Homo sapiens: one gene and its partners. The protein of the gene in region 2 purifies or fractionates together with the protein of the main gene of each other region. This does not show direct contact. Each region holds a gene or a part of one and is shown on either strand. Other genes may lie near its edges.

Region 1 (4,798 bases), on a different chromosome or scaffold from region 2:
TGTCCTCTCTCAAGATGTGATGAAGGCTGGGCGTGGTGGCTCATGCCTCTAATCCCGGCACTTTGGGAGGCCAAGGTGGCCAGATCACCTGAGGTCAGGAGTTCAAGACCAGCCTGACCAACATGGTGAAACCCCATCTCTACTAAAAATACAAAATTAGCCGGGCGTGGTGGCAGGTACCTGTAATCCCAGCTCCTTGGGAGGCTGAAGCAGGAGAATTGCTTGAACCCAGGAGGCGGTGGTTGCAGTGAACCGAGATCACACGATTGCGCTCTAGCCTCGGCAACAAGAGTGAAACTGTCTCAAAAAAAAAAAGGGCCAGGCGCGGTGGCTCACGCCTGTAATTCCAGCACTTTGTGAGGTCGAGGCAGGAGGATCACAAGGTCAAGAGTTTGAGATCCACTTGACCAACATGGTGAAACCCCGTCTCTACTAAAAAGAATACAAAAATTAGCCGGGTGTGGTAGCACACGCCTGTAATCCCAGCTACTCAGGAGGCTGAGGCAGGAGAATCACTTGAACTGGGGAGGCGGAGGTTGCAGTGAGCTGAGATCATGCCACTGCACTCCAGCCAGGGTGACAGAGCAAGACTCTGTCTCAAAAAAAAAAAAGATGTGATGAGCCTGGCAGAAGCGAGGAGGCCCTTCCAGAAGAACAGGTACATGGCTGAGAGGGCACCTGAGCCCCCCTTCCTGGCTTTCCTTGCCAGTCAGTGGGAACTTTTTTTTCGTAGAGATGGTTTTGCTGTGTTGCCCAGGCTGGAGTGCAGCAGCAGGATCATCAGGGCTCATTGCAGCTTCCTATTTGCATAAACAGTCCTCCCCGCTGAGCCTCCTAAGTAACTGGGAACAGTCTATGCCACCATACCAGGTTGTTAATTTTATTTTTGTAGAGATGGGATGTCATCTCTACAGCAATGTTGCCCAGGCTGGTCTCCATCTCTCGCCTTCAAGGGATCCTCCCTCCTCAGTCTCAAACTGGGATGACAGGTGTGAACCATTGAGCCCGGCCTCACCTTGACCTTCTGATCCAACAGAGTCTGAGGGAGCAGAGCCAGGGGCAGGTGTGACTTGATGAGCCGTGGGGGCGGTGTGTCTTTCAGAGTCTCCAGCCCTGAGTAGTGGGTCAGGGAAGGTCTGGTGAGCTGAAGCCCCAGCCCTGTCTTCCTCCACTTCCCTTACCCCCAGGACCCAGCCATGCACCTGAGGGTTCCCCTGGATCATTGACCTCAAGGAAGGGCACCCGTACGTAGATGGGAGCCCGGTTACACTTCTCTAGGTCGCCGCCCTGGTAGATCATGTCCAGTATCTGGCTCACCCAGGTGGTGCCTGGAGAGGGAGGGAGATAGGAGGTGAGCAGGCTGAGGGCACGACCTTGCTGACCAAGGTGGGGACTGCCGCCTGGGAGAGGGTGGGTGGCCCTCCTCACTTACCAGACTTGGGGTAGGTGTTGATGAGCAGGTCATCAGGTCGGGCTTGGAAGCTCTGCAGGGGCCCCAGTGCCTCTGCAAAGTACTTGATGAGCGGGACCCCCTTCACGTACTCCAGTGGCGGGCGGGAGGTGTCCTGGATCAGCTCCATGTTCCTGCATCAGGGGCCAGAGCCAGGCCCGTTCCCTTACCACCATCACAACAGCAAGAAAGTGGGATTCTCTCTTTTTTTTTTTTTTTTTGAGATGGAGTCTCACTCTCACCCAAGCTGGAGTGCAGTGTGGCACAATCTCAGCTCACTGCAAACTCCACCTCTTGGGTTCAAGCAATCCTCCCGCCTCGGCATCCCAAGTAGCTGGGATTACAAGCATGTACAACCATGCTCAGCTAATTTTTTTTTTTCTTTAGTAGAGATGGGGTTTCACCATGTTGGCCAGGCTGGTCTAGAACTCCTGGCCTCAAGTGATTTGTCTACCTCAGCCTCCCAAAGTGCTGGGATTACAGGTGTGAGCCAGCACCCAGCTGCCCCTTTGCAGAGTTTTTGCTTTCAGGGAAGTCACTGAGGCCTAGGGAGGCTGAGTGACTTGCCCGCACTCACAAAGTCAGTCAGTGGCGGGGCTGGGGCTGAAACCAGGTCGTTCCCCAGCCTGGCCGCACCTTTCAGTCACCTGCAGAGCTGTTCAAAATCCCAGGGCCTGGGGCATAGTGCAGACCAGTGAAAGCACCCTCGTAGCGCGGGGCCCAGATATCAGGGTGTGTGAAGGTCTCCAGGAGAGTCCAGCTGTGCTGAGGAAGCTCTAGGGCCTGCCTGTGCTGTCTCCCTGCCAGCCAGCGCCCTTTGTCTCACCATTTCCTGCTGGGACCCCCAGCCTCCACCCAGTGCGCTCCTCTCCCCGATGCTCCCCTCCTTGAGCCCCCCTCATGCCCCTCACATGTGGAAACCTCCCAGGCCGGCCAGGTCTGTGATCCACTTGCCTGGCCACAGTCCATCTGGGCTCCAGAACAAACACAGCCCATTGAGCAACTAAGCTGGTACCAGGGGCTAGAGCCTCGTGCGGGAATGAAAACTGATGACTCATCAAAAGGAGGGGCCCAGGCAGGGTGACTCCCGCCTGTAATCCCAGAGCCTTGGGAGGCCAACGGGAAAGGATCCCTTGAGCCCTGGAGTTTGAGACCAACCTGGACAACAAAGCAAGACCTCTCCTCTACAAAAAATATTTTTCAAAATTAGCTGGGTGTGGTGGCTTGCTCTTGTAACCCCAGCTACTCAGGAGGCTGAGGCGGCAGGATTGCCTCAGCCTAGGAATTTGAGGCTGCAGTGGGCCAGGATCCCACTACACTCCAGCCTGGGTGACGGAGCAACACCCTGTCTCAAAAATACACAAAGGAAAAGAAGGAACGCAGGGGGATTCCGGCCAGGCTGGGTTGTCTAATTGAAATGGAATATCCATGGGAAAGGGCAGGGATGGCAGAGGCCTCGGCTTCTAGAATGTTGGAGCCACAAGCTGAGCAGGGTGAAGGTGCCCTGGGCCATTCCAACGTGTCACTCACCTGAGCTCTCGGGAACCTGACCTGTTCTCTCCTTGCCTGCAGGGGCTGAGTATGGGTGTGGTGTAGGGAGTGTAGGGCTGCTCTCTGCCCTGAGGGTTTTGAAGGTCCAGTGTGGGAGGGATCTAAAGTCAGGGCTGGGAACTCCAGGAAGGAAGGGGTGGGGTTGAGGGTGGGGAAGCTTCTCTATTACCCTCCTTACCACCACAGCTCCAGCCAAGCTTGGAGTGATCTGCAAACCCAATATGTGAGTTTAGTGTATAGAAAACACATGAATGAAAGGCAAAAGGGGCCAACATTGGTATTTGGGTTTTTTTTTTTTTGAGCTGTCACTAGGCTCCTGACCTTCCCTCTGAACTCCACCCTGCAGGGCAGGCCAACAGACAAGCTTTCTTTCTTTCTTTTTCTTTTTTTTATATGAGATGGAGACTCGCTCTCTCGCCCAGGCTGCAATGCAGTAGCACGATCTCCGCTCACTGTAACCTCCCCCTCCTGGGTTCAAGCGATTCTTCTGCCTCAGCCTCCCGAGTAGCTGGGATTACAGGTGCACACCACCACATCCGGTTAATTTTTGTATTTTTAGTAGAGACGGGGTTTTGCCATGTTGGCCAGGCTGGTCTCAAACTCCTGAGCTCAGATGATCCGCCCGCCTCGGCCTCCCAAAGTGCTGAGATTACAGGCATGAGCCACCATGCCTGGCCGACAAGCTTTCTCTAATTGACCCAGGCAAGGGAGGTGAGTGAGTGGAGGGGAAAGGTGGGATAGGCCGGCCTGGGAAAAGTCACCTACCTGCTGGCTACAGGCCAGTCTTGAAGGCGGCAGGGGTTCTGGCCCAGTGCAGTCCACAGGCCCCCAGCAGCCCAGGCATTCCAGGCTCTGACCACAAGGCCAGTCTGGAGTGATGTGTGGGGGCAGAGTGAAGGGGCAGAAGTGGAGCAGAGCATGGACATATAGAACAAGAAAGAGGCTGAGCGTGGTGGCTCACGCCTGTAATCCCAGTACTTTGGGAGGTCGATGCAGCAGGATCACCTGAGGTCAGGAGTTCGAGACCAAGCTGGCCAACATGGTGAAACCCTGTCTCTACTAAAAATACAAAAATTAGCTGGGCATGATGGCGGGCACCTGTAATCCTAGCTACTCAGGAGGCTGAGGCAAGAGAATCACTTGAACCCAGGAGGCGGAGGTTTCAGTGAGCCAAGATCACACCACTGCACTCCAGCCTGGGCAACAGAGTGAGACTCTGTCTCAAAAAAAAAAAAAAAAAAAAAAAAAGAAAGAAAGAAAGAACAGAAAGAATAAGAAAGGACAAGGACACTGTAGTCCCATTGCCCTAGGAGCCAGCCCTAGCTTCATGGCTCCTGGGGGACCTCACAGAGCATCAATAGAAGATCCTAGAAGAAAAACAACCCTGGCAGGTGCTTTTCTTTCCCTGGGTTTGAAGGAGGCTCCGTAGACAAGAGACTAGAGGAGATTAAGACTTGGAAGCCACAGGGCCCCGTGGAAGGAGGGCATCCCCCCATCCTCCTTGGTCTTTGTCCTATTTGCATTCAATTTCAAGGTAAGTCTCCCAGGCTTCCAAGAATTGCATGAGCTCAGAGGCAAGTAGGGGAAAGCTGAGGCATGGGGTTTCCAGGCAGAGTAGAAGCTGTTCACGTGCTAGGGCCAGGGGCCCCTCCTGCCTCCTCTGTGCCCCTGAGGAAGCCCCGTGACTGGCAGGACCTTGGGCTACTAGCTCCGCCCCTCCCCTCAGCATCCACCATAAGGCACCCTTGACTCAGACTTTTTATTGTACTCAAGTAAAAACCTGCTGGACCCACAGCA
Region 2 (4,306 bases):
AAAAATGAAATGATTAGAATTAGTATTTTAGAGGCTTAAACAGTTTTGCAGATAAGATAAAGTGCCACTCTTTCAGTAAATAGTACATGACATCATTAACTCCAGCTCCCATCTGCTCCAACTTTTATTCTGATTCAGGTGCCTGGATAGAAGGAGCTCTCTGTGTTGTCCTTGGTCCCTGCTCTGCTCTTACCAGCTGTATGGCCTTTGGAAATCTTTCTGCGTGCTGTTTCCTCAGAAGAGGAAAATGAGGGGTTTTGGATTAGATGATATCTAAGGTGCTTATTCTTCCTTTCCCCTCTGAAACTTTTTTAGTCTTTTATAAAGTAATAGTGCCATCTTGTGTTTTAAGATATTATGCCTCTGTGATCCACAGTTCTAGGTACACAGTGAAATAAATTTGTTCCTATTACTTATACAAACCTTAAATAGGCTATGTTTTATTAGGGAGATATTACTGCTTTTGATTCAGGTAACTTAGAAATCACTTTAGGTTCATCTAGCATGGCACATAACAGGCAAGTAGTACAGGTACATGACAATAAGTTTAATTGAAACTTGCCTTCCCATTCACTTTTGTTCCAAGGAGAAATCAGAGCTAGTGTTATGGAAGTCTTTACCTTTTCCTATTCTTGGCTTACCAAATCCTTCACTGTAACTTATTAATGTCAAAATTTATATAACTTAGTTTTTATTCTTAAATTATAAAGCAGTTTCCGCTTGAGTGTACAAACAAAATATATGATAGAGAATTAGAAAGATGCAGAAAAACATACAGACATACACACACATACACATACACACACCCCAAAATAAAACTTATTTTGGAATCCCGTCATCCAGAAAAAAGCACTATAAATACTTTGTGTATATTGTAGTTTCTTTTTAGTCCTATGTTAAGTATAGACCTACTGTATATTAATTATATGCCTATGCTTTTTGCCTCCAATTTCATCTCTTGACAGTTTTCTCTGGCACTGTAGCTCTAGGAACTGTTTTTAGCTATGAAACATATAGTGCTTTCTGGCTTTTGATCATTACTAGTCCATCTGTTAGGAATTTTTTTTCCTTTCTTCTTCCCCAACCTTCCCTATACACCTCCTGTCTATTCTTCATGTCACAAATCTCTCATTTCCGTCACCCCACTCCATCCTTGCATATGTTTCCATGGGAGGAGCTTATCAGACATTTGCATAAGGAAAGCAAATTGTAGAATGTAACATATGATACCATTTTTATTAAGAATTTATACATATTTTCAAGAGTATACCATATTTATTAAAATGAATGGAAAAACAATCTAGAAGGATGCATACCAAACCTCTAGAGCAAGCACTGGGATGGCAGTGGTGTTATGGGGAGCTTGAGTCTCTCTCTTATATTTTAATTTTTTTTTTACAAAATATTTGTTAATTAAATGTATGTGTATACAGACATTTTAAAAAGCTTGATAAAAAGGGTGTCTGCCTGTACCCTTTTAAAGGCTGTGTCATATTAACACGTTACTGGTGGACTGATAAGAAGCCTGGATTAGCCTGGGCTTTAATATAATAATAATGTGCTTTAAGGCCTAGGATAACTCAGTCTTAAGAGAATACTTTGAAATCAGTAAGTAAGGTTTTTAGAAACTTGGCATGTAGCCTTTAAGTAGACTTTAAAGAAAAATTAGAGGGCTTTCTTAATGTCCAGTATAGAGCAAGGTGCTGGAAACACACAGATGAGTAAGAGAGTAAGGAGCTCACCTTGTAGAAAATTCTTGAGATGATCAATGTGATAGTGTTTGTGCGAGAAGGGAGAATAAACACCGGAAAGTTTTGAGACCTTTACATTTCCCTTCCCTTAATAAATGAGAATTAGTCCAAATTATTATGAATTAACTTTCATGCATTCTGCTTTTCTTAGGAAAAGAAAGCTGCATTGGAAAAGGAGCGAGAAGAACGGATAGCTGAAGCTGAAATTGAAAACTTAACAGGAGCCAGACATATGGAAAGTGAGAAACTTGCTCAAATATTGGCAGCTAGACAGTTAGAAATTAAACAGATTCCATCTGATGGCCACTGTATGTATAAAGCCATTGAAGATCAACTGAAAGAAAAGGATTGTGCTCTGACTGTGGTTGCCTTGAGAAGTCAGACCGCTGAGTATATGCAAAGCCATGTGGAAGACTTTCTGCCATTTTTAACAAACCCTAATACAGGAGATATGTATACTCCAGGTAATTTATTTTTCTTTACTATGTTTTATTGTTGCTTTGTTGTAGTTGTTTTTAAATAAGGTGCTTCCCAGCACTGAGCGTAAGAAGAACCCAGATGATCCTTATGAGGAAAAAACATCACAAGATTTAGGCAGAATTATTTTCTGTAATTTTAATAGATGTTGGTGTATTTTTCTCTATTAAGATTTCTTAATTACTTAGTTATTTTGTAATTATAATATGCTAATCATTTTATGTAAGATAGAAGTAGGAATAAGAGTCATTTTTGAAAAAAATGTAAGTTCTTATTTGACAAAGTGAAGTATTGAGGAAGGTAAGCTTCAGGAAGTATATATAGGGTCTGAAGACCATAAGGAGAGAATGACTAGGAAAACCATTTCCTGCTTTTATCTTATAATTTGGGAACTTTACTTTTATTTACAATAAGCTATAATTAGGAAGATTAGTGTTCAAGTAAAACAAATGGGTTAATAACCTGCTTTATTCTATACAATACTATCACAGTTAAGATAAAATATTTATGAGGAAGTAAAAAAGTACACAACTAGCAGATGAGGAAGAGAGCAAGTAAAAATCTGAATAGGTTTTGGGGTAGTAATGAATGGAATAGAGGACTATTAGTCCTTGAGAGAATATGGCAGGTTTGGCAGTATCCATTGTTCCCACAAGTCATATGGCCAGAATGGGTTGCAGAGAGAAAGGTTAAAATTGACTTTCCTTTAGTGGAGTCTGTCCTCCATGGAGGAAAGGTAGAGAGTGATGCAGAATTGATAAGAATGAGCATTGGCAGTCAAGTGTGTCTCCTTTAGTGTGCATGGCTTAAGGTATCTGTTGATAGATTTCAAGAATGACTTAAGCATAATCTAATTCTGTAGTGAATTAATTTCCCATAGATGTCATATTGGAAATGTTAACTTATCTCTTGCTGTTTTAGGTCATTGCTGTTTTCTACATAAACAGAATTTGCTATGGGACATAAAACACATTTTTCCATATATTTTGATATATGCATAGGCAATGTGATAAATGACTCTTCTGTCATTTATCTCCCAAATGATTACTGAATCATTGAAACTCCCCAATTGCGCTAGTTGTAGGGCATAGAGGAGGTGGCAGTTCAGTATGCTGAGTCAGAGAAAAACACAAAAGACTTAATTAATTATCTCCATTTATTCAACCAATATTAATTGAAGGCCGCTGTGTGCCAAGCACTACTCTAGGCACTGTTCTGAACGCTGAGGATTTAACAGGGTATGAGACAAACACATGAGACATATTTTTCTTCTAGATGTCCATAATTTCTTTCCTTCCATCTCTGTAGTAAGGATAATTGTTTTCCATTTTAACATACTGTGTAAAAAGGTGTATGCACAAAATATACCCATTGTAAATTTAGTGATTAGGTCTTTTATTTCTCAGGGCTGATGTGAAAAGCCTTTTCCTTGGTTAGAACTGATACTTATGCAAGTAATGTAAGTGCTTCCAAAATAACAAGTGGAGGCACTGTTTGACGCTATCTCTGGGGAAGGAATTTCAATTCATCTGTACTTTTACTCGAATTCTCTTCGTATATTTCCCAGAGTCTTACAGTAAACCTGATTATACAGGAACTACATTTTTTTTGTCTTTCATGGTATTCCTTTGGATGCAGGTTTGGGCTTCAAAACACATGTCAAGATAGTGAATATGGTGGCAATTTTTGGGGTCAACGCTTGGGGTAGAGTGAGGTAGGTTTGTTATATAGGGAGGGTATCTGGGCCTCCAACAGAAGAAGAAAAGCAGAAATGGACTGCTTTGTTCTTGGATGGAAATGTGGTAGAAAGTTGGGGTGAATTAAGTTTGGACCTGGGAGTTAGATTAGATTCTGGAGGATAATGGTAGAGAAGGAGAATGTTCATAACTTGGGCATTTTTGTCAGGAATTGTGGGAACTATAAAAGGGATTTTGTAACATGAGTTACAAAAATTATTAAGTGCTGTATTCTGACCTAATCTCTACAGAAGAATTTCAGAAGTACTGTGAAGATATTGTAAACACAGCTGCATGGGGAGGTCAGCTTGAGGTAAGTTTGTAGTTATTCATAGTGATTGT
Region 3 (4,306 bases), on a different chromosome or scaffold from region 2:
AAGCGATTCTCCTGCCTCAGCCTCCCGAGTAGCTGGGACTACAGGCGCCCACCACCACGCCCGGCTAATTTTTTTGTATTTTTAGTAGAGACGGGGTTTCACCGTGTTAGTCAGGATGGTCTCAATCTCCTGACCTCGTGATCTGCCTGTCTCGGCCTCCCAAAGTGCTGGGATTACAGGCGTGAGCCACTGCGCCCAGCCAGGAATTCTTTTGACTGCCAAATTCCATGGAATCTGTGAACCGCGGTTTGTTTCTGCACTCACTGGCTGGTCTGCGGGTTTTCCGGTTTTGAGCTACTGTGAATCATGCTGCTCTGGGCATTCACGCACGAGGCTGTGTGAGGACACAGATTCTCCTTCTCCTGGATAAATGCCTCGGAGTGGAATGACCCTGACGTTTAACATTTTCTTTTTTGAGGCAGGGTCTCACTCTGTCACCCAGGCTGGAGTGCAGTGCTATGATCACAGCTCACTGCAGCCTTGACTTCCTGGGCTCAAGTGATCCTCTCACCTCAGCCTCCTGAGTATCCGGGACTAGGGCGTGCACCACCATGCCTGGCTAATTTTTAAAATTATTTTTTAGCCAGGCGCAGTGGCTCATGTCTGTCATCCCAGCACTTTGGGAGGCCGAGGCGGGTGGATCACCTGAGGTCAGGAGTTCGAGACCAGCCTGACCAATAGGATGAAACGCCATCTCTCCTAAAAATACAAAACGTAGTCAGGTGCAGTGGCCGGAGCCTGTAATCCCAGCTACTAAGGAGGCTGAGACAGGAGAATCGCTTGAACCTGGGAGGCAGAGGTTGCAGTGAACCAAGATCACACCATCGCGCTCCAGCCTGGGAACAAGAGCAAAACTCCGTCTCAAAAAAAAAAAAAAAAATTATTTTTTAGCCAAAGCAGTGGCTCACACCTGTAATCCCAGTGCTTTGGGAGGCCAAGTTGGGAGGATCACCTGAACCCACAAGTTCAAGACCAGCCTGAGCAACACAGCAGACCCCATCTCTACTAAACAGAAAAAAATCAGCCGAGCATAGTGGTGCATGTCTATAGTCCCAGCTACTTGGGAGGCTAAGGTGGGAGGACTGTTTGAGCCCAGAAGCTGGAGGCTGCAGTGAGCTATGATCGAGCCACTGAACTCCAGTGTGGGTGACAGAGTGAGACCCTGTCTCTAAAAAAAAAAAAAAAAATTTAATTTTTAAAAAGTCTAAGAGTCCAAGGGGTCAATACTAGACACACATGGCTATTTAAATCTATATCCAAATTCAGCTGAATTCAACATTCAACTCCTCGGTCACACTGTCCACATCTGTAGTCCGTACTGGCACATGAGTGCCTAGTATTGGACAGCACACATCCAAACCATCCCGCTTACTACAGGATACTCTACTGCAGAGCACAAGACCACAGAAAAACTGTTAAACCTAATAAGGCTTCAGGAAGAAACAGTTCAAACCAGATAAAAGTAAACATGCCAGCTACTCGGGAGGCTGAGGCAGGAGAATCACTTGAACCCAGGAAGCGGAGCTTGCAGTGAGCTGACACTGTGCCACTGCACTCCAGCCTGGGCGACAGAGCGAGACTCCGTCTCAAAAAAAAAAAAAAAGAAAAGAAAAATCACCCAACTTTATGTCCTTAGAAAGACCAATCTCCTCAGTAAATTCCTTTATCACTTGACAAACTGATTCTCAAGATCATCAGGCACCGTTAGCCCAGGGCTGGCAAACTATGGCCCTTAGAGTGAATCTGGCCCACCACTTGTTTTTGTAAATTAAGTTTTTTTTTTTTCTGAGACGGAGTTTCACTCTTGTTGACCAGGCTGGCCTGCACTGGCACTACCTCAGCTCACTGCAACCTCCTCCTCCCAGATTCAAGCGATTCTCCTGCCTCAGCCTCCTACGTAGCTGGGATTACAGGTGCTCACCACCATGCCCAGCTAATTTTTTTATTTTTTATTTTTTTGAGACGGTCTCACTCTATCGCCCAGGCTGGAGTGCAGTGACGCGATCTCGGCTCGCTGCAACCTCTGCTGCCCAGGTTCAAGCAATTCTCCTGCCTCAGCCTCCCAAGCAGCTGGGATTACAGGCGCTCGCCACCACGCCCGGCTAATTTTTGTATATTTAGTAGAGATGGGGTTTCACCATCTTGGCCAGGCTGGTCTTGAACTCCTGACCTCATGATCCACCTGCCTCGGCCTCCCAAAGTGCTGGGATTACAGGCGTGAGCCACTGCGCCCAGCCACTTTTTGTATTTTTAGTAGAGACGGAGTATCACCATGTTGGCCAGGCTGGTCTTGAACTCCTGACCTGAGGTGATACTCCTGCCTCGGCCTCCGAAAGTGCCAGGATTACAGGTGTAATCCACTGCACCTGGCCAATAAAGTTTTATTAGAACACAGCTCTTCTTGCTCAGTTACATGTTGTTGATTTATGGCTTTTTGTGCTGCTACGGCAGAATTAAGTAGCTGCAACTGAGACAGTATGGCCTGCCAAAAATATTTACTATCTGACCCTTCACATGAATTTGCTGGCACCTGTGTCTTTTATCTGTTTTGGTTTTGTTTTACACACAGTCAAGGTCTCACTATGTTGCCCACACTGGTACCAAACTCTTGGCTTCAAAAGATCTTCCCGCCTTAGGCCAGGGACGGTAGCTCACACCTGTAATCCCAGTACTTTGGGAGGCCGGGGATAGCCTGAGGTCAGGAGTTTGAGACCAGCCCGGCCAAAATGGCGAAACCCCGTCTCTAAAAATACAAAAATTAGCCGGGTGTGGTGGTGCACACCTGTAATCCCAGCCACTCGGGAGGCTGAGGCAAGAGAACTGCCGGGAACCCAGGAGGCAGAGCTTTGCAGCGAGCCAAGATCATGCCACTGCACTTCAGCCTGGGCAACAGAGCGAGACTCTGTCTCAAAAAATAATAAAACAAAACACAGAATATAAGTTCCATAAGGAAGGAGATGTTTTTCTGTCATATGCACCTCCTGTAGCCAGGACTGTATTTCAGTGAGTATCTGTAGGGTGGACAGATGGGTGGATGTGGGTGACTGATTCTAGAAGAGTAATAAATGTGTCAGACCAGCTGAGAAAGTCTTTTTTTTTTTTTGAGACAGAATTTTACTCTTTTTGCCCAGGCTGGAGTGCAGCAGCACGATCTCAGCTCACTGCAACCTCCACCTCCCAGGTTCAAGCAATTCTCCTGCCTCAACCTCCCGAGTAGCTGGGATTACAGGCACCTGCCACCACGCCTGGCTAATTTTGTATTTTTAGTAGAGACAAGGTTTCACTATGTTTGCCAGGCTGCTCTCAAACTCCTGACCTCAGGTGATCCGCCTGCCTCAGCCTCCCAAAGTGCTGGGATTACAGGGGTGAGCCACTGCGCCCACTCTTTTTTTTTTTTTCTAGGTGGAGTCTCGCTGTGTTGCCCAAGCTGGAGCCCAGTCGTGCGATCTCAGATCACCACAACCTCTGCCACCCAGGTTTAAGCGGTTCTCCTGCCTCAGCCTCTCAAGCAGCAGGTGCAAGCCACCATGCCTGGGTACTTTTTGTATTTTTAATACAGACAGAGTTTCACTATGTTGGCCAAGTTGATCTCGAACTCCTGACCTCAGGTGATCTGCCCGCCTTGGCCTCCCAAAATGCTGGGATTACAGGCGTGAGCCACTGTGCCCAGCTTTTTTTTTTTTTTTTTTTAGGGACAGAGTCTCACTCTATCGCCCAGGATGGAGTGCAGTGGTAGGATCATGGCTCACTGCAGCGGCAACCTCCCAGGCTCAGGTGATCCTCCTACCCGAGCCTCCTGAGTAGCAGGGACCACAGGCACACACCACCATGTCCAAGTAATGAGGTCTCGCTATATTGGCCAGACTGGTCTCGAACTCCTGGGGTCAAGTGATCCTCCCACCTCAGCCTCCCAAAGTGCTGGGATTACAGATGTGAGCCACTGCACTCAGCCTGAAAAGTCTTCACAAAGAATAAAGTTGGGAAGAATTTGGTGAGCAGTTCTCAAAACATACCACAAAGCAGCAATCATCAAACAATGTGTTATGGGAACAAGGACTCACAAAGCAGTCAATGAAATGTGAGACCCCAGAACACACTGTTCTTTTTTTTTTTTTTCCAAGACAGAGTCTCGCTTTGTCACCCAGGCTGAAGTGCAGTGGCACAATCCTGGCTCACTGCAACCTCCGCCTCCCAGGTTCAAACGATTATCCTGCCTCAGCCTCCCCAGTAGCTGGGGTTACAGGCGCTCGCCACCACGCCCGGCTAATTTTTGTGGTTTTTCTTTTTTCTTCTTTTTTGAGGCGGA
Region 4 (4,201 bases), on a different chromosome or scaffold from region 2:
TTGGCTGTGTGACCTTTTACCCCTGTGGGCCCGCACCCGTTCCCGCCATAAAACAGTGCTTCTGAGAAGCACACTTCAGATTCCCACTCGCCCTCTCCCACCCTCCAATTCACCCAAACGTTAGGCTGCTGGGTGAGTGCGCCCGGCTGCTGGGCTGTGGGGTGCCCTGTGTTGCAGGGGAGGTGCGCCCTGTGGGGAGGTGGGGGAGGTGTGCTGTCTTGTGAGATGCATGGTGGGGTGAGGTGCGCTGTGTAGGGAGGTGGGGGGAGGTGCGCTGTATAGGGAGTGGGGGAAGTGCTATGTAGGGAGGTGGGGGAGTGTGCTGTGTAGGGAGGTGGGGGGAGTGCGATGTGTAGGGTGGTGGGGGGAGTGCACTGTGTAGCGTGGTTAGGGGAGGTGCGCTTTGTAGGATGGTAGGGGGAGAGTGTGCTGTGTAGCGTGGTGGGAGGAGGTGCGCCATGTGCGCCGTGTAGGGAGGTGGGGGGAGTGCTCTGTGTAGGGTCGTGGGGGGAGTGTGCTCTGTAGAGTGGTGGGGGAGTGTGCTGTGTAGGGAGGTGGGGGAGGGGAGGTGCACTGTGTAGGGAGGTGGGGGGAAATGCTTAGTGTAGGGTGGTGGGGGGAGTGCGCTGTTGTGAAGTGAGGCACACTGTGCCGTGTGCCATGAGTTAGGAAAGGAGGAGGAAGGCAGAAAGGCAGCTCTGTGCAGAGGTGGGCAGTGGTGTTGGCTGGACCTGGGCTGGAATTCTGGGGGTCACTAGTTAGGTTTCTGTCTCCAGCTAAGCTGCAGACCTCTATTTTCTCCTCTGTGCAATGGGAATAACAACAGTGTTTCTCATAGGGCTGTCTTTAGGATTAACGGAATAATCCGTTGTTGAGCTTATTAGCACTGTGCCTGGTACACAGCAGCCATCTAATCTGCTGGGCCCTCCCTGATGAGGGTGGGGGTCAAGGGAAGGAAAGGGCTTTGAACTCAAGGAAAATAGCCACCTTTTTCCTCTCCTCACAGGGAACCCAGTTTGGCCAGTGGGATACTGCTGGTTTTGAGAACGAGGACCAAAAACTGAAATTTCTCAGACTTATGGGTGGCTTCAAAAACCTGTCCCCTTCGTTCAGCCGCCCCGCCAGCACGATTGCAAGGCCCAACATGGCCCTCGGCAAGAAGGCGGCTGACAGCCTGCAGCAGAATCTGCAGCGGGACTACGACCGGGCCATGAGCTGGAAGTACAGCCGGGGAGCCGGCCTCGGCTTCTCCACCGCCCCCAACAAGATCTTTTACATTGACAGGAACGCTTCCAAGTCAGTCAAGCTGGAAGATTAAACTCTAGAGTTTTGTCCCCCCAAAACTGCCACAATTGCTTTGATTATTCCATTTATGCTGGAGATTACAAATTTTTTTTGTGAAAAAATCAGATCTTGGTGAGGACCTCGAGCAGTAAGATATAAATAACTCCCATAAGCTTAGCGTTCCAGTAATGGAACACTAGGCATAAATGGTTTATTCAGTTGTGCAAATGAAAGCCATCTGACAGTTGGCTCACATTGAACACCTGTGGAGATTAAGGACGAGGACAACTATATTGATGGGCTTGGATGAACTGGGGCAGGGCAGCTCATATTTCGGGAGCCAGGAGAACGAGTGAGTGCTAAAACCTCCTGTTTTCTGTGTTAAACATTCCGTCCCTGTTTGAGACATCAGTATGTACAGTTAACTTTTGTTGAGTGTTTAGCAGGTACTAGGGACATACTAGTGTTTTCCTTAATGTATTTAATCTTCATAATTATGAAATGGGTGCTATTATTAGCCCCATCTTATAGATGAGGCAACTGAGGTTCAGGGATAAAGTAATAAAATTGCCTGGGGTCACCCAGCCACTAAGTGCAGGGTGTTGTACTTTTGTACCCGAAGCCCTAAGTTCACTATTCGCCACTCTGAATGTCCCCTTTAGGGAATTTCCACCAGAATCCTCGTTGGGGATTGAAATGTCTTTAGATGGAGGAAAAAGTTTTATGACAAGTCTGCATCTCTGATAAAAAGTGGAGTGAATGAGGAACGGAGAATCGCAAACTCCTTTTCCTTCCTTTTCCTTTCCCCTGTCATAGAGCAGCTGTAGGCAGAGAGGTGTCTGAGTTGTTACCAAACACATGTGACTGAGCTGCTGCTGCTGGGAAATGTGCCTCTAAACCAGTCCTGCCTTTTCCACTGGTGTCCCTTCGGCCCTAAGTGCTGAGGTAGGATTTTTGTGCTTTGACTGGATTCTGAACAAGGCATTTTAGGAAGAGTGGTTAGTCCCGCAAATGAATCAATGGCAGATCCCAGGGACGTGTGTGTGTGTTTTGAGATAGGCTCTCACTCTGTCACCCAGGCTGGAGTGTAGTGGCATATCACGGCTTGTTGCAACCACTACCTATCCAGCTTAAGTGATCCTCCCACCTCAGCCTCCCAAGTAGCTGGGACTGTGGGTGTGCACCACAACAACCAGCTAGTGTTTAAAATTTTTTGTAGAGATGGGGTCTCACTATATTGTCCAGGCTAGTCCCAAACTCCTGGACTCAACTCATGCTCCTGCCTCAGCCCCCAAGAGCTGGGATCACAGGTGTGAGCCACTGTGCCCAGCCCCAGGGATGTGTCTGATGAGATTCTTTTTTATCACAAGGAAGAGAATCCCAGGTGACTTCTGTAGGTGGATATTGAATGCCAGGAGGAGATGAACGTGTGGAGATGACACGGGAAGTTGCCTCATCGGCTGTGGGGACAGCGTTTCCAAGCCTGGACTCTACAGCAAGCCTCAAAGAGCTCCAGGTCCAGTGGCCCAAGTCGCATGTGACCATCTGTGACCACCTTCTTTCCACTCACCTAGCTTTTTGCATCCCAAAATACAGGTTCTGACTGGGACATTTTCACGATCGTTTGGCCTGAACATGCCTCCTACAGACATCCCAGCCCAGGCAGGCCTCGATGGCCAGAAAGTTCAGTCTCACGTGGCAGGAAGGCCTGATTAGGGCCTGGTTCAACAGCTCGCCAAGGAAGCATTCTCTCCATCATCTCCAGTGTTGGCTTCATCAAGGCTAGTACAAAGATGGCAGTAACAGTTCCAGGCAGCATATCAAGACCCTAGAACATTCCAGAGGAAGAAAAGCCTTTTTGTGTCTCAAGGAAACTTCCAGAAGCCTCCATTGCTGGGCAATGAGTCATCTGCCCATAGCTGCACCCGCCCCTGTCATGGGAAGGCTGGTGATTCCCTTCAGTCAAGAAGAGTGGATGCTGGTGAAGTGGCCATGGTGTCCACAGCTGCCCATTGGGCAGAGGTGAGGCAGGCACTTCAGGCAGTTTCCCTGGCTCTGAACCCTGATCCGCAAGCATTGGCCAGGTCAATAGTTGGACAAGTATGTGCTACAAGGACCTACTTGGGCCACTTCCCTCAGGACGTGAACTTGTCCTGCCTTTCTTTCCTGGATTCAACCTTGAGATACATAATGGGAGAGGCCGTGGAAAGCCCAAGAGGCAGTGTTCTGGATTTGAGTGAGTGCCTTCTGGGCACCTCCTCCTTTGATGGAGAAACAAATCCCTCCTGACCTTGAGCAACACTACAGGAATGTGCCTGGTGTAAACAGGAACCAGCCGTTCGTTTCTTTTTTTTTGAGATGGAGTCTCACGGTCGCGCAGGCTGGAGTGTGGTGGCGTGATCTCGGCTCATTGTAACCTCTGCTTCCTGGGTTCAAGCGATTCTTGTGCCTCAGTCTCCTGAGTAGCTGGAATCGGCCGTTTACTACTCATAGTTTTTATCTTGCCAAGAGGTCACCCTGACGTTGGCCTGCCTTAGCTCTGTTAAAAAGGTTGTGCTCTGCCAGGTGCGGTGACTCACGCCTGTAATCCCAGCACTTTGGGAGGCCAAGGTGGGCGGATCACGAGGTCAAGAGTTCGAGACCAGCCTGACCAACATGGTGAAACCCCGTCTCTACTAAAAATACAAAAATTAGCTGGGTGGGTGTGGTGTCACGGGCTTGTAATCCCGGCTACTCAGGAGGCTGACAGGAGAATCGCTTGAACCCGGGAGGTGGAGGTTGTAGTGAGCTGGGATGGTGCCACTGCACACTCTAGCCCCGGGCAACAGAATGAGACTCTGTCTCAAAAACAAACAAAAAAAAACTGTCTTTGGGTGATTGTGGAGAGGTGATCATATGTCCGCTGTGTTGCTCCCAT
Region 5 (4,306 bases), on a different chromosome or scaffold from region 2:
GCTTGCTAAAATGTTTACAGTGATCACCTCTAGATTGTGGGATTTTGGTGAATTTTTTTCTTCTTTATTCCTTTCTGTATTATTGGACTTTCTATATGATTTTATATTATTTTTATAAAATCAGAAAAATACCTCTACTTGTGGAAAAAAAAATACCTTTATGTAGCAAAGTTGCTTTTGTCTTATTTAGACTGTCCTCTTTTTCTCAGCACCCAGCATAGCAGATGAAGCTCGATGCTTGTTAAATACAATTTATATTTTTTTGGTGATTCTTTGAAACTTCTTACATTATTATATTGAATAATAACTGATTTGGGATTTCCTTACTTTGATCCTTTCTTTCTTCCATAGGTAATAGTGTTGTCTTTGTTCTTTTTTTTCCTAATGGAGCACATCATAAATGTTGAGGCTGAATTTGTATAGGTTTTTGGTGCTACAAAGAGGTATGAGACGTGGTCTCCATCTGAAGTGGAATTCTCAGCCTCTTAGGATGGCAGGATATGACTGTAGTAGAATTGCCGTATGAGATAGCTTTTGCTTAAATGTCCAAAGATTAGGAAACTGAATATGTAATATGATTAGAACTTAATATAATAACCAACTGAAACTTACAATCAATATCATATATATTTAATGATATGTATATTCTATCATGCGCTATCAGCACCTGTAGATTTAATACTAAAAATAGCAGCTATTCTTAAACAAGCCTGAAGGGCTTTGGCCTATAATAATGTATAATTTTGCTTAAGTAAACATTTGAGTCACACACCTTTGAGGCCAGTCTGTGGGAAGGAAATACAGAACTAGTGAGTGTGAGCTTAGAAGCCACATTTAGAAGCCAGTATTTGAACTCCTGGTGCAGTATTTTCCTGTTGGTCTGGGGCAGAGTTCCTCCTTCAGAATATTGAGAGGTCAGGCAGAAAGGTAGGTTGGTACCAGAGGTGGAAGTCCTTGAATATTTGGTTTAGAAGATATATGTGGCCAAGCTTTAGCATTTTCATTGATTGAGGTTTTACTTACCTCAGTCATTTAACATTTTCAGTGACTGAGGTTTTACTTATTTTATTTAAAAATTTTGGCTGGACGTGGTGGCTCACGCCTATAATCCCAGCACTTTGGGAGGCTGAGGTGGGCGGATCACGAGGTCAGGAGCTTGAGACCATCTGGCCAACATGTTGAAACCCCATCTCTATTAAAAATTCAAAAATTAGCCAGGCATGGTGGCATGCGCTTGTAGTCCCAGCTACTCAGGAGGCTGAGGCAGGAGAATCATTTGAACCTAGGAGGCAGAGAGGTTGCAGTGAGCCGAGATTGCACCCACTGCACTCCAGCCTGGGCGACAGAGCGACACTCCTAAAAAAAAATTTTTTTTTTGTAGAAATGAAGTCTCACTATGTTGCCCACACTGATCTTGAACTCCTGGCCTCAAGCGATCCTCCTGCCTTGGCCTCCCAAAGTGCTGGGATTACAGGCATGAGCCACTGCATCAGGCCTGATCGAGGTTTTAATTTACAGAGAATCATTGTTAGGGGTTCATTCTTTCTTTTTAAGTGGAATAGACCAGTATAATGAACTCCCACATATGCATCAACCAGCTCCAGTAACCACCACCATGTGGCTAATCCTACCCCACCTACTTTTACCTCTCCTGTATTATTTTGAAGCAAATCTCAGGTATTTTATTTTGTTTATAAATATTTCAATAGGTATCTCTAAAAGATAATGATTTTTTAGAAATCTCAAATGCTACTTAATGTCAAGGGGATTCTATTGTCTGCATATCACTTTGGGGAGGGGTTGTCTCTGAAGTGTCTGAAATTATATGCAAATTTTTGTCTGGTTATGCTTGCATGACTAGGTGTAATGCCCCTCCATAGATTCTCAGAGGATCCAAGAACAATTGGTGTTCATGTTTTCAGGATCATATATCAAATAATGGAGTAGGCAAGTATATCAAGGAAGAGATGTCAGCTCTTACAAATAAAAAGACAATAATTTATATCACATTTAATCTTTCACAGGGTTACATGATGAAAAAGGGCCACAGACGGAAAAACTGGACTGAAAGATGGTTTGTACTAAAACCCAACATAATTTCTTACTATGTGAGTGAGGATCTGAAGGATAAGAAAGGAGACATTCTCTTGGATGAAAATTGCTGTGTAGAGGTGAGTCTACTCTTACTTCTTTGCATGATTACCCCGTGCTGCCCCCTGATGCTGAAGTAGCTTCTCACCTTCTTCCACCTAGACTCTAGAACCTTAAAATAATCCCCAAATTTACATTTCCAAAATAATATAGGCATGCAGTTGCCATGGTTTCTGAACCAAAAATTAAACATAGCTGACAAAATTTTTTTCTAATGTGAATTTATTTTCAACCTTCTACTCGTGAATAAAGTATAAGGATTAAATCATTTATTGGAACATTTAAGGAATCATTTATTGAATAAAATGGAGTCATAAAAGAGATAATAAAGTAAAAAAAAGTTCAGTAAGACAATATTTGGAATAAAGAATATGCCAGAAAATCTGGGACATTTTGAGTGCAAGAAATAAAAGAAGATGTAAGCATTGTCTTTGAATACTTTGGGTGACTTTCAGGACACTTTATTCATAGGTACTAATTCTTTAAAGAAGTGAAATTCTCAAGAACATAAATTTTTGAGTTTTTAATTTTTATATGAACTGTCCCCGTGTCTGTATGTGTTGAAGAACATTTAAATACCTGAAATCTCACACATAAACTATAATGTATTTTAGTGAATAATAATGTCTTGAGATGTGTGATGCCCATGAAGGAGTCTGCTTAGATTTAACTAAACATGGAGATCTACAAGGTTACCAAAGGCCAGTTTACTCATAAACATATAGGACAGAAACCACGGGTTGCCAGCCACAACATTCCAAGTGCAAGAAGAGAAAGCCACATTAAGCAGATGTAGGAATCACCCTGGCTTAGGTGCTTCATATCCCATAGGAGTTAATACCTCTTGTAACATCATCACAGATGTACCTTCCAGGATTCCTGCAAGGGAGGTGCTCAGGATAAGAGCTGCTATACTCAGGAAATCCCAATGCATGGCATCCTATCAGGTGTTTATAGTTTTACCAGTCTAGATGTAGTATACCAACTGGGGTCATTTTTACCATAAGTAATGTGCTTAGGAAACAGCATTAGTAAATCAGTAATATGAATTTATAGGTATTTTTCATTGACATTAAGTTTCAGCTCATTTTTATAAATAATTCAAATTGAATTTCATTTAAATACTTAAAATTTTGAGGAACTAATTTTGCTTTCTGTTTTAGTCCTTGCCTGACAAAGATGGAAAGAAATGCCTTTTTCTCGTAAAATGTTTTGATAAGACTTTTGAAATCAGTGCTTCAGATAAGAAGAAGAAACAGGAGTGGATTCAAGGTAAGGTGATTTTTTATTATTTGCCATGATATAACTTGAAAGCTCTGACTTTCTTTTTTTTTTCTGAGACGGAGTCTTGCTCTGTTGCCCGGGCTGTAGTGCAGTGGTGCTATCTTGGCTTACTGCAACCTCCACCTCCTGGGTTCAAGCAATTATCCTGTCTCAGCCTCCAGAGTAGCTGGGACTATAGCCACCACGCCCAGCTAATGTTTTTGTAATTTTAGTAGAGACGGGGTTTCACCATGTTGGTCACGCTGGTCTCAATCTCCTGACCTTGTGATCCACCTGCCTTGGCCTCCCAAAGTGCTGGGATTACAGGCGTGAGCCACTACGCCTGGCCGAGAGCTCTGACTTTCTAGTTTTGAATCTCATGAAGGATGCTAAGGCGTTACTTCCTCATTGTAGTTATTTTCTGCATGTGATACAGTAGCTGAGAGAAAAACAAATTAAGATGCGCTCTCAAAGTTTTCATTAGTTTTATTTGCATAATGAACTTTGGGTAAATTATAAATGGGAGATTTACTTTTTAAATAGATTTTGGGGTTGCAAGTATAGTTCTGCTACAGTGATATATTGTGTAGTGATGAAATCTGGGCTTTTAGTGTAATCATCACTCGCATAGTTGCTGTTAGGTAATTTCTCATCCCTTGCCGGCCTCCTGCCTTCCCACATTTCTGAGTCTCCAATGTCTATTATTCCTTGCTGTATGTCCATGTGTACACATATTTTAGTTCCCACTTATAAATAAGAACATGTAGGCCGAGTGCGGTGGCTCATGCCTATAATCCCAGCACTTTGGGAGGCAGAGGCGGGTGGATCATGAAGTTGGGAGATCGAGACCATCCTGGCTAACACGGTGAAACCCCGTCTCTACTTAAAAAAA
Region 6 (4,124 bases), on a different chromosome or scaffold from region 2:
CAAATTCTCATGCTATTCCTACAATTAACTTTAATACCACATTGGTAGATGAACAAATTGAGACATAACCATGTTAATCAAATCTTCCAAAACCTTATTCACCAAAAACGAATGCTTAAGAAAACAAACAAACAAACAAAAACACAAAGCCAATCAAGACTAGACTCTGGACCCCAAGATGATGAGTACTATATCAAACACATACTTTCCCCCTCATCCAAGAATAAAACTCACATAAAAAAGCACATATTCTAATATGGTAACATTAAAAAGTCCCTTCTCTGAGGAATGGGCAATTTTAAGTCAAGCAATTTGTAAAATATATTAATCACCACAATCCAAAATTAGATATAAATATAATGATCGCACTTGAGGTCTTTATTTTAGATCAATTTTTATAAAATGCAAGATTATTCTAATGATTCTTTAAGACAATGACTTTATGGCATAAAATATAGTAATAATGATACATTCTCAGACTTCACTCAGTATTCTAGAGGGAGATGTTTCACTTACAGTATTTCAAAAGGGAGTCAGAGAGTAATATATTTTTACAGCATTCAGAAACAAAAATTAAGAGATTTTCTGGCATGATTAAATCTAAGCTTTAAGTAGAATATTAAGGTAAAAAAATCATAGTTTTCCCCCATGATTTTATCTTTATGATTGTTGCTATTTTTATTATTACTATTATTAGTTTGTAATTATTACTTTTTTTTATAAGTTGGAATACATTAAGTCATCTAAAAAATGCTCATATTGCCAGGTGCAGTGGGTCACGCCTGTAATCCCAACACTTTGGGAGGCCAAGGCAGGTGGATCACCTGAGGTCAGGAGTTTGAGACCAGCCTGGCCAACATAATACAAAAAATTAGCTGGGTATGGTGGCAGGCACCTGTAATCCCAGTTACTCGGGATGCTGAGGAAGGAGAATTGCTTAAACCCGGGAGGCGGAGGTTGCAGGGAGCTGATGTTGCACCCTTGTACTCCAGCCTGGATAACATAAGTGAAATTCCATCTCAAACAAACAAACAAATGAAACCTCATATTAAGGTCAGGTGTGGTGGCTCATGCTGGTAATCCCAGAACTTTGGGAGGCAGAGGCAGGTGGATCATTTGAGGTCAGGAGTTCAAGATGAGCTGGTCAACATGGTGAAACCCTATCTCTACTAAAAATACAAAAAATTAGTTGAGTGTAGTGGCACATGCCTGTAAAACCCAGCTATTTGGGAGGCTGAAGCAGGAGAAATGCTTGAACCCAGGAGGTGGAGGTTGCAGTGAGCCAAGTCTGGGCGACACAGTGAGACTTCGTATCAAAAAAAAAAGCTCATACTAAAGCCTCTGAAATGCCAGAGGCCAATCAGTTAATACTTACACTGACAGACTTTTTTAGAATTAGAAATCAAATGAGGTGAGACTTGAAGGTACAATACTGAAAGAACATCTTAAGAATAGAAAGTTACTGATCATTTTGTGTGTGAGAACAGAAGGGACAATACTTATGAACTACAGCTTCACCCCTGAGGGCTTATTCTAGATATGGGAAAGCCCTGAATCCACTGGACCAAAAAGAAGACTAATTCTTTCTTATTTTAATTATTATGGCACTAAAAACCAATCTGCCCACCTGCTGTGTACTAATATTCTTAGAGGACCAGATAATCAGAGGCAACAGAAAAGAGCATAGTAATCTAAAATAAAAATACTGTACATTTTTGCCTGTATGAACATTGACAAAGCTCTCCTATGCATTATAATGAAGGACGCAGGCAAATGTGGCAACTGAGGCTCAGAAAAGCTTAATGTCTTATTCAAATTCATAGAGCTAAGTGGTAAAGCTTCAGTCTCATCTACATCTAGCCCAATGTGGTTCCTGTATACCAAAGTGCCTCTAGGCCAGTACTGCTCAAGCTTTAAGGCCCTTAAAAATCATGTGGGGCACTGAGTGAAGGTATAGATTTTGAGATTCCCGCCTCCTTGAGGTTCTGATTCAGCCAGTCTGGAGTGGGGCCAAGGAATCTGCACTTTAAAAGGCACTCCAGGAAATTCTGCTGGCCAGAGTCTGTATACCATACTTTGAGAATAGTACTCTAGGCAATATATTCTTATGTAAGGTAGATTTTCTGGGGCTGAAAAATGACACATGAGGAGAACTCACGAATTTCAAAAGACTAACTCTCGCTGCTTAAGACCAGTTGAGAAAGCAGGATTCATGAATGACACGGGCACATTAGTCACATAACAGATATGTGTGGTGGTGCATGCTGGTATTTGGTGTGAAATATTTGAGAATGGAAACCAAACACTATACCTTGTGGAACCCAAAGTGGACTCTCTGCAAGCTCACTTGAAGCACATACTCTTGGTCAGCATGCAATTTGATCCATTTGTTGTCATCTCGTTTGTCTGCAGTCAGAGTTGAGACAGAGAGTTCATTATGTCCTTCAACTAAGTCATCCCACGAGCCTTTAACACTTATGCCAACATTTATCACTGGCAAGTGAGATAAGAAATTCCATGCCTAAATAAAAAGAGAAAAGAAACAATAAAGGAGGAGTTTATGTGAAATGCAATGATCAATTAAGAAATAGTGTGCTTTTAGACGAAAATTAACCTTTTAATGTTGAGATTAATTCTAGATCCAATGCAGTTGCAGGAAATAATACAGAGACATTCTGTGGACCATTTACCCAGTTTCCTCCAAAGGTAGCATTTTTCAAAACTACGGTACTTATTACTACTAGGATATTGACATTAACATAATCCAGTGATTTTGTTCAGATTTCCCCAATTTTTCTTGTATTTGTGTCTATATGCATGTATGTGTAAGAATATTGTGCTTTTAGTCTTTTTAATGTCTTTGTAAAAATAACTAAAAGAGGGCTTATCATTATTTAAACTTGTGATTCCTTTATTGTAAATCCTTCCTGATACTGAGCAGCTGTTGACTATATTAAAATAAAACAAGTTAAAAAATGTCTGTTATCGAACTGGTTTGTTTTAGAGAAGCATCTATTCAGACATTCACATGGCTTCTAAGAAGGAGAGCATTACTTGGGGATAAAAGGGCAATGTGAAAATATTTTTGTAATTCAATTATTGATGTTAGAATCCTCCACTGACCACTTATTGTACATTTTTTGGCCCATATTTCAAATTTGCCCTATTTATTCAGAAAAAAATTCTTTATATTTTATATCATAAGGAATTCTATAAGTCTAGGGTTCCTTCTAGAAACAAATATGAATTTTTGGCATCATCATACTGAGAATACCAATTAAAATGACACATTAAAAGATATTTTACCTAACTTTATACTTGCTCTTGAAGTGGAAAGACATTTGTAAAAAATCAGTATTCAAATAGCAAGTGCTCAACAATAATGAATGAATGAATGAGAATACCTAGGTCTACAGAAAAGATGTAACAAAAAACTTGAGGTCATCTTTTTCTAACATATACACTTATATGGCAATATCACCATCAGTCAAGAAAACTTCTCAATACATTGGCTTTTTTTTTTTTAATCAGTTGTTACCTTCTCAGTTAGTTTTTAAAAGTACATGGTACTTTAATTTTGGTTTTTCTTTTATTCCTTTAATATATACTATAGATTTCCTTATAGGCTTTGATTTTGCTTAGTGCTGCTGAGTATACCTAATTGAAATGAAGTAGTCCTGATGAACCAAACTACCCCTTAGGAATTAAAAAAAATGTAAATTCAATGCAAATTTTCAATTCAACTCCAATCCTATAACTTGTCTTATCAATCTGAAATCATGTCTTGAACTGGATTTTGAAGTAGTCAAGCCACAGATGGTACTTCAATCTGTACAACCTGTACAAAGGATGGTCTATCCCCTGCTAGAACCCATAGTCACTAAGTATAGAAGCTGTACCACTAGATGTTCTTCTAGGACTGGCCAGTCTGGAAAAGGGGTTAAGGGGACTTAAAAACACAATTTCTGTAAAGCATTTGACTTTGTCAGACAGCACAAGTAACATTTACCCCATGAAGCAAGACTTGTTATGTTTCTTTACCTGTACCATTAAATCAGTTACCAATATAATGTTTTGTTATTAGTAACTCATTGGGATTTTACTTTACAAAGTCCCCAAATGTC
Region 7 (4,306 bases), on a different chromosome or scaffold from region 2:
AGGAGTGGTGTGTATCAAAACCAATCTGAAGTGGACACAGTTCAATCTGAACATATTTGAAGCACCTATTCTGGATAAAATATTATCCTACCTAACACAAGGGCTGTAAAGATGACTGAGAAAAGTCAAGCTATTTTCAAGTATTAACTAAATTCAAAAATGAGATTTTTCCATTTTAAGCCGATCAATTCCCCTCCTTATATTTCTATAGGTACAGCAGCAACAGTCGTATACTCTTGCTTTTATTTATGGTGCCTCCTGAGCATTCTCTCCCTACCACCACTACCTCAGATGGTTTTGATACTATCTATGCAAATCCTATCCTCACAGCCCAGTTCAACTCTACAATACCCTTAAAAGCTTTGTACAATTATTTTCCCTTCCACAGAGCTGCCCCCATCTCTAGGAATTAAATAACTTTCTATAATTGTAAACTATTTGGTATTTGCTTACATCCCTTCCCAATTAGATGTCCAAACACCTTGGGTTGAATTCTTTTTATCACTCCCACAAATAACAAGTAGGTGCTCAAAGTAACATAGCCCATAAGTCATATGCTATTAAAAAAAAAAAAAGTCAGTTACCTAAATCACCTGTAACCCTGTAAGATCCATTTGCAAAAATCCAGAAGAAAATTCCTCTGGCACTTCTAATCAAAATACCACCTTTATTTACTCTTCCTGCAATGAACACACCTCCTGTGTCAGGGGTCTCTATGTATACATCACACTTTATAGTCAGATTGGTCCTGCAAAATAAAACGGTTGATTAGTACTCTTTAAAATATGCCCTTTGTAACATAGTACAGATATGTCATTTCACAGCACATGCTTCCAAACTTCTAATTGAGGTGAGAATGTGATTTGCTAAGTCTAAGCCTGTAGCAGAGATGGGCTTCAAGAATCTTTATTGACAACAGTTTTAAATGTTACATGACTTAAGTCATTTCATTGCCTCTTTAAATGATTACTGGACAATAATAGTTATGATTTTTAAGTTTCCTGAGAAAATTTTTTTTCTACAATAAAACAACTTCTCATCTTAAGAATACAATATTTTAAAATGCTACTATTGTCTATGAACACATTAAAAAGTAAAAAGTTCCACACAATTCTGAGGGAAAATGTTTATTCAAACTTCCATCAACAAAGAGAGGCAATGAAGGCAATGCTAGGAGCCTTTGAGAGAACACAAGCTATTCCGGGGCCAACTTTTACATTTAAATCTAACAAAACTTTAAAACTCCAGGAGAAAAGATCTAAAATTATTTTTCTGCAAAGACCACAGAGTTGACTCTCTAGGAGGGCTTCTCACACCTGAACAGCACTGAAATCACCTGGAGGGCTTCTTAAACTCAGTTCACTGGCCCTACCCCACAGCGTGATTCAGTACATCTGGGGCAGCCCCTTGAATGTGCATGTCTAACAAGTTCCCAGGTGATGCTGATGCTGCTCGTCCAGGAATGCCACTTGGAGGACCATTTTCCCCTATGAAGTATCTGTCTATAAGGAAGCAATAAAATCCTGGTTCTAGGCTCACTGATCCACAGCAGTCTATCAAAGATGGGAAAAGATTCAGCTGTCCAGGGACTACCAGAGCTTTTACAGTGAGCTCTCCTCCAGGTTTCCTCTTACAAATGCTACCAGGTACAACACTTTCCTTCTGGAATGCTACAACCACCCCAAACCAACATGATCTCTGAAAATATTTCACTTCCTACTCAGTATCTAACTGCAAGTGGGAAGAAAAAGAAAGCCTGCACATAACCAAGTCATAAATCAAGCAATATATCTCACATAAAACTGGAAACACCAAGAAATCCATTCTGGAAATGGGCTGGGGGGAATGAGATCTAGAATTATGTGGCTTTTACATTTCTGTGTCTTATCAGTGAATTTTGCACAGTGAAATTTTACTACATAAAGGAAAATATTACAGAAGTACCTACATCAGCTACACAGGGAGGACAATCCACACTTAATTATCTAAGCAGAGCTGGACTACTTTACAGGAAGATAAATGCTAAGTAACTCAAGCCCAGTCTCTCTTGTATGTCCTCTGACATCAGAGGGAGTTTTCTCTCCATAGATTATCACCAGCATGAAACCACTGGCAATCAACACTGGTACTTACATCCCTTACCTCCTTTCTGGTTCATCAGAAGTTTGAAAGTGCTACAAATACCATCAGCACCATAAAATTATTCTATTTAGAGTTGGAATGAGAGAAGATCAAACTTTCCTTTTCTATATACCACATTCCAGAATAAGTGATTCTTGCATCAGAACTTGCCAGGCAATTTCACAGATAATGAATGAAATGGAATAAAAGTGTGGTTTATTCTTCCACAGCCACAATCTCTCAGTAATGCTGAAAGAACAAAAACTAGCCAATACATAAGGCAAATTTGATCCAAGAGAGTTCATCTGTGTGCAGGGAAAGGTAATTTTGTGATTGTCTTTAAAGGATTCCAACCAATGCTCACTATCAAGATAGAAGTAGCCAGTTATAGTACAATCTATCCCATATAATCAAATTACTGTGCTGGTAAATGACTAAATCTAGGTATAAGAGAGGAAGTTCTACTCAAAACACAAGTCTAAAAACTGTGAGTAGTGTGCACTCATTGAGAGCAGATTTACTAAAATAGCACTACAGATAAACTAAACAAATTTCTCATTTCCTACCTTTAGGAAGAAGATGATTAAAATGAGGCTGTGAGATGTACTCCAAAGAGAATGGGCTACTCAGTCACACAGACCCGGCTTCTAGCCCTTGTTCTGCCACTTACAAGTGAAATATTGGGTAAATCTTATTCCAAAGATGCAGTTTCTCAGTCTGCAAGGTGGGGACGATGATATCTCCACCATAAAGTGGTTGTGTGGGAAATCCATCAAAGTGCCTACTATTACCCAATTTTTATTCCCTCCTTTTCCCACAATAAGTGGGCACAGCAGCCAGACAACAGAAATGAACAAGGGATTTGTGTGGATCTCTGAGCAGATCTGGCTGCCTCAAATAGAGGGTGGAATACTGGAAAATAACACATAATAGATGAGACCAAATTATAAAGGGTCTTGGAAATCAAGCCTAGAAGTGGAAAACACAGGTAGCAGGACAGAGTCACTGCATCTTCCTGAGCAGGGGAATAACATGATGAAAACAGGGCTTCAGAAAGATGAAGGCAGGCCTTTCTTGACACGCAAAATTGCAACTTCCCGGTTCCTTTCCTTTCAGAATATGTCACTCTCTTCCCTTCTACACCCTTCCCCATCCCTCGTCCCCACCTCCTTACCCACTGCAATAGATCCTAGTAAAAACTGAGTATTGCTATTTAAATTGTGAAGATGTATATGAAGATTCAAATATATGAAGATCTGGGGGAGTAAATCTTTGGATGGTGCTATATCTCACTTCTATACTACAATTAAGGGGCTTCTCAATCTTTTTGGAGTCCCAGCCAGAAATAAGATTGAGTTTGAGTTTAGAAAGAGCCCTCTATGGTATTCAAGTGCATGGGGTATAGGGGATGTCACAGAAAAAAAAGTTTCCTATACGGCGACTTCAAAACTGGAGATCAAAACAATGGGACCCAGGCCTTGGACACTTAAACCCAGCCACTGGACTTAAAATAAGACCATCAGTCACAAATAAGGATGCCAAGAACTCCACTACCATAACTGGAAAATCTAGGTAAAGTTTCCACCTCAGAGACAATGGGACAAGCAGAAATTCTGCGTAAAAACACAAGCCACAAATGTCATCCTAAATTAGGAAGGAATTCTTCACTGCACCTCAATAACTCTTCATAGTGTTATAAGGGTTCCAGGGGCTCTGGATAACTAAAAGTTTCTTAAGACTTATGTCAGAGCTTGGGACTAGAATCAGGATTTCTAACTGGGAGTAAGGCACTTCAGGAGGGATAAACACTTTCTGCACACTCCATAGACAGGCAATTCAAGGCTCTTTTCAGAATTCTTTTCTCTTCCCTCTCCAGTTTCCAAGCTTCGGATATGGCTTTTTGGTGGCTTGGTATTACTAGTACTAGCTCTAAACCTGGAATGTGTATGTGTTTCTTTTCCCACAGTGGAATCATACTAGTTATAGGAAAAAATGAAAAAGAAACACATGACAGGTGGAATAAGTCAGCACATAGAAATTCTGTAACTAAAGAGGAAGGGAAAGTTTTAGTTTGGCATTATATTTTATGTGAATAATATAACTTGTCTCTTTACCAGATGACTAAATAAAAAGTTAAATTCACTAGGCGACTAAAGCTGATTAGCTTTTTACTATTGCCATCTAC

Evidence for each region.
Region 1: the proteins of OTUD6B (region 2) and SULT1A4 purify together in Homo sapiens (co-immunoprecipitation; one large-scale study listed by IntAct). This does not show direct contact.
Region 3: the proteins of OTUD6B (region 2) and BTBD2 purify together in Homo sapiens (affinity purification with mass spectrometry; one large-scale study listed by BioGRID and IntAct). This does not show direct contact.
Region 4: the proteins of OTUD6B (region 2) and KNOP1 purify together in Homo sapiens (affinity purification with mass spectrometry, with the first as the bait; one large-scale study listed by BioGRID). This does not show direct contact.
Region 5: the proteins of OTUD6B (region 2) and SWAP70 fractionate together in Homo sapiens (co-fractionation; one large-scale study listed by BioGRID). This does not show direct contact.
Region 6: the proteins of OTUD6B (region 2) and ASCC3 purify together in Homo sapiens (affinity purification with mass spectrometry; one large-scale study listed by BioGRID and IntAct). This does not show direct contact.
Region 7: the proteins of OTUD6B (region 2) and GALC purify together in Homo sapiens (affinity purification with mass spectrometry; 3 studies listed by BioGRID and IntAct, with this or other methods). This does not show direct contact.

The regions. Positions count from the first base shown.
Region 1 is NC_000016.10:29,458,168-29,462,965, reverse strand, and holds the start of SULT1A4 (sulfotransferase 1A4), read right to left. Parts: upstream 3,054-4,798; 5' UTR 2,981-3,053; intron 1,585-2,980; 5' UTR 1,581-1,584; coding exon 1,433-1,580; intron 1,329-1,432; coding exon 1,203-1,328; intron 1,114-1,202; coding exon 1,016-1,113; intron 1-1,015. UniProt on the Homo sapiens protein: Sulfotransferase that utilizes 3'-phospho-5'-adenylyl sulfate (PAPS) as sulfonate donor to catalyze the sulfate conjugation of phenolic monoamines (neurotransmitters such as dopamine, (R)-adrenaline/epinephrine, (R)-noradrenaline/norepinephrine and serotonin) and phenolic and catechol drugs.
Region 2 is NC_000008.11:91,076,454-91,080,759, forward strand, and holds part of OTUD6B (deubiquitinase OTUD6B), read left to right. Parts: intron 1-138; coding exon of another isoform or gene 139-278; exon of another isoform or gene 279-279; intron 280-1,902; coding exon 1,903-2,215; intron 2,216-4,215; coding exon 4,216-4,277; intron 4,278-4,306.
Region 3 is NC_000019.10:2,004,919-2,009,224, forward strand, and holds part of BTBD2 (BTB/POZ domain-containing protein 2), read right to left. Parts: intron 1-4,306.
Region 4 is NC_000016.10:19,704,027-19,708,227, reverse strand, and holds part of KNOP1 (lysine-rich nucleolar protein 1), read left to right. Parts: intron 1-1,006; coding exon 1,007-1,318; 3' UTR 1,319-4,201.
Region 5 is NC_000011.10:9,726,029-9,730,334, forward strand, and holds part of SWAP70 (switch-associated protein 70), read left to right. Parts: intron 1-2,024; coding exon 2,025-2,171; intron 2,172-3,314; coding exon 3,315-3,423; intron 3,424-4,306.
Region 6 is NC_000006.12:100,510,398-100,514,521, forward strand, and holds part of ASCC3 (activating signal cointegrator 1 complex subunit 3), read right to left. Parts: intron 2,522-4,124; coding exon 2,312-2,521; intron 1-2,311. UniProt on the Homo sapiens protein: ATPase involved both in DNA repair and rescue of stalled ribosomes. 3'-5' DNA helicase involved in repair of alkylated DNA: promotes DNA unwinding to generate single-stranded substrate needed for ALKBH3, enabling ALKBH3 to process alkylated N3-methylcytosine (3mC) within double-stranded regions.
Region 7 is NC_000014.9:87,940,811-87,945,116, forward strand, and holds part of GALC (galactocerebrosidase isoform a precursor), read right to left. Parts: intron 749-4,306; coding exon 585-748; intron 1-584. UniProt on the Homo sapiens protein: Hydrolyzes the galactose ester bonds of glycolipids such as galactosylceramide and galactosylsphingosine.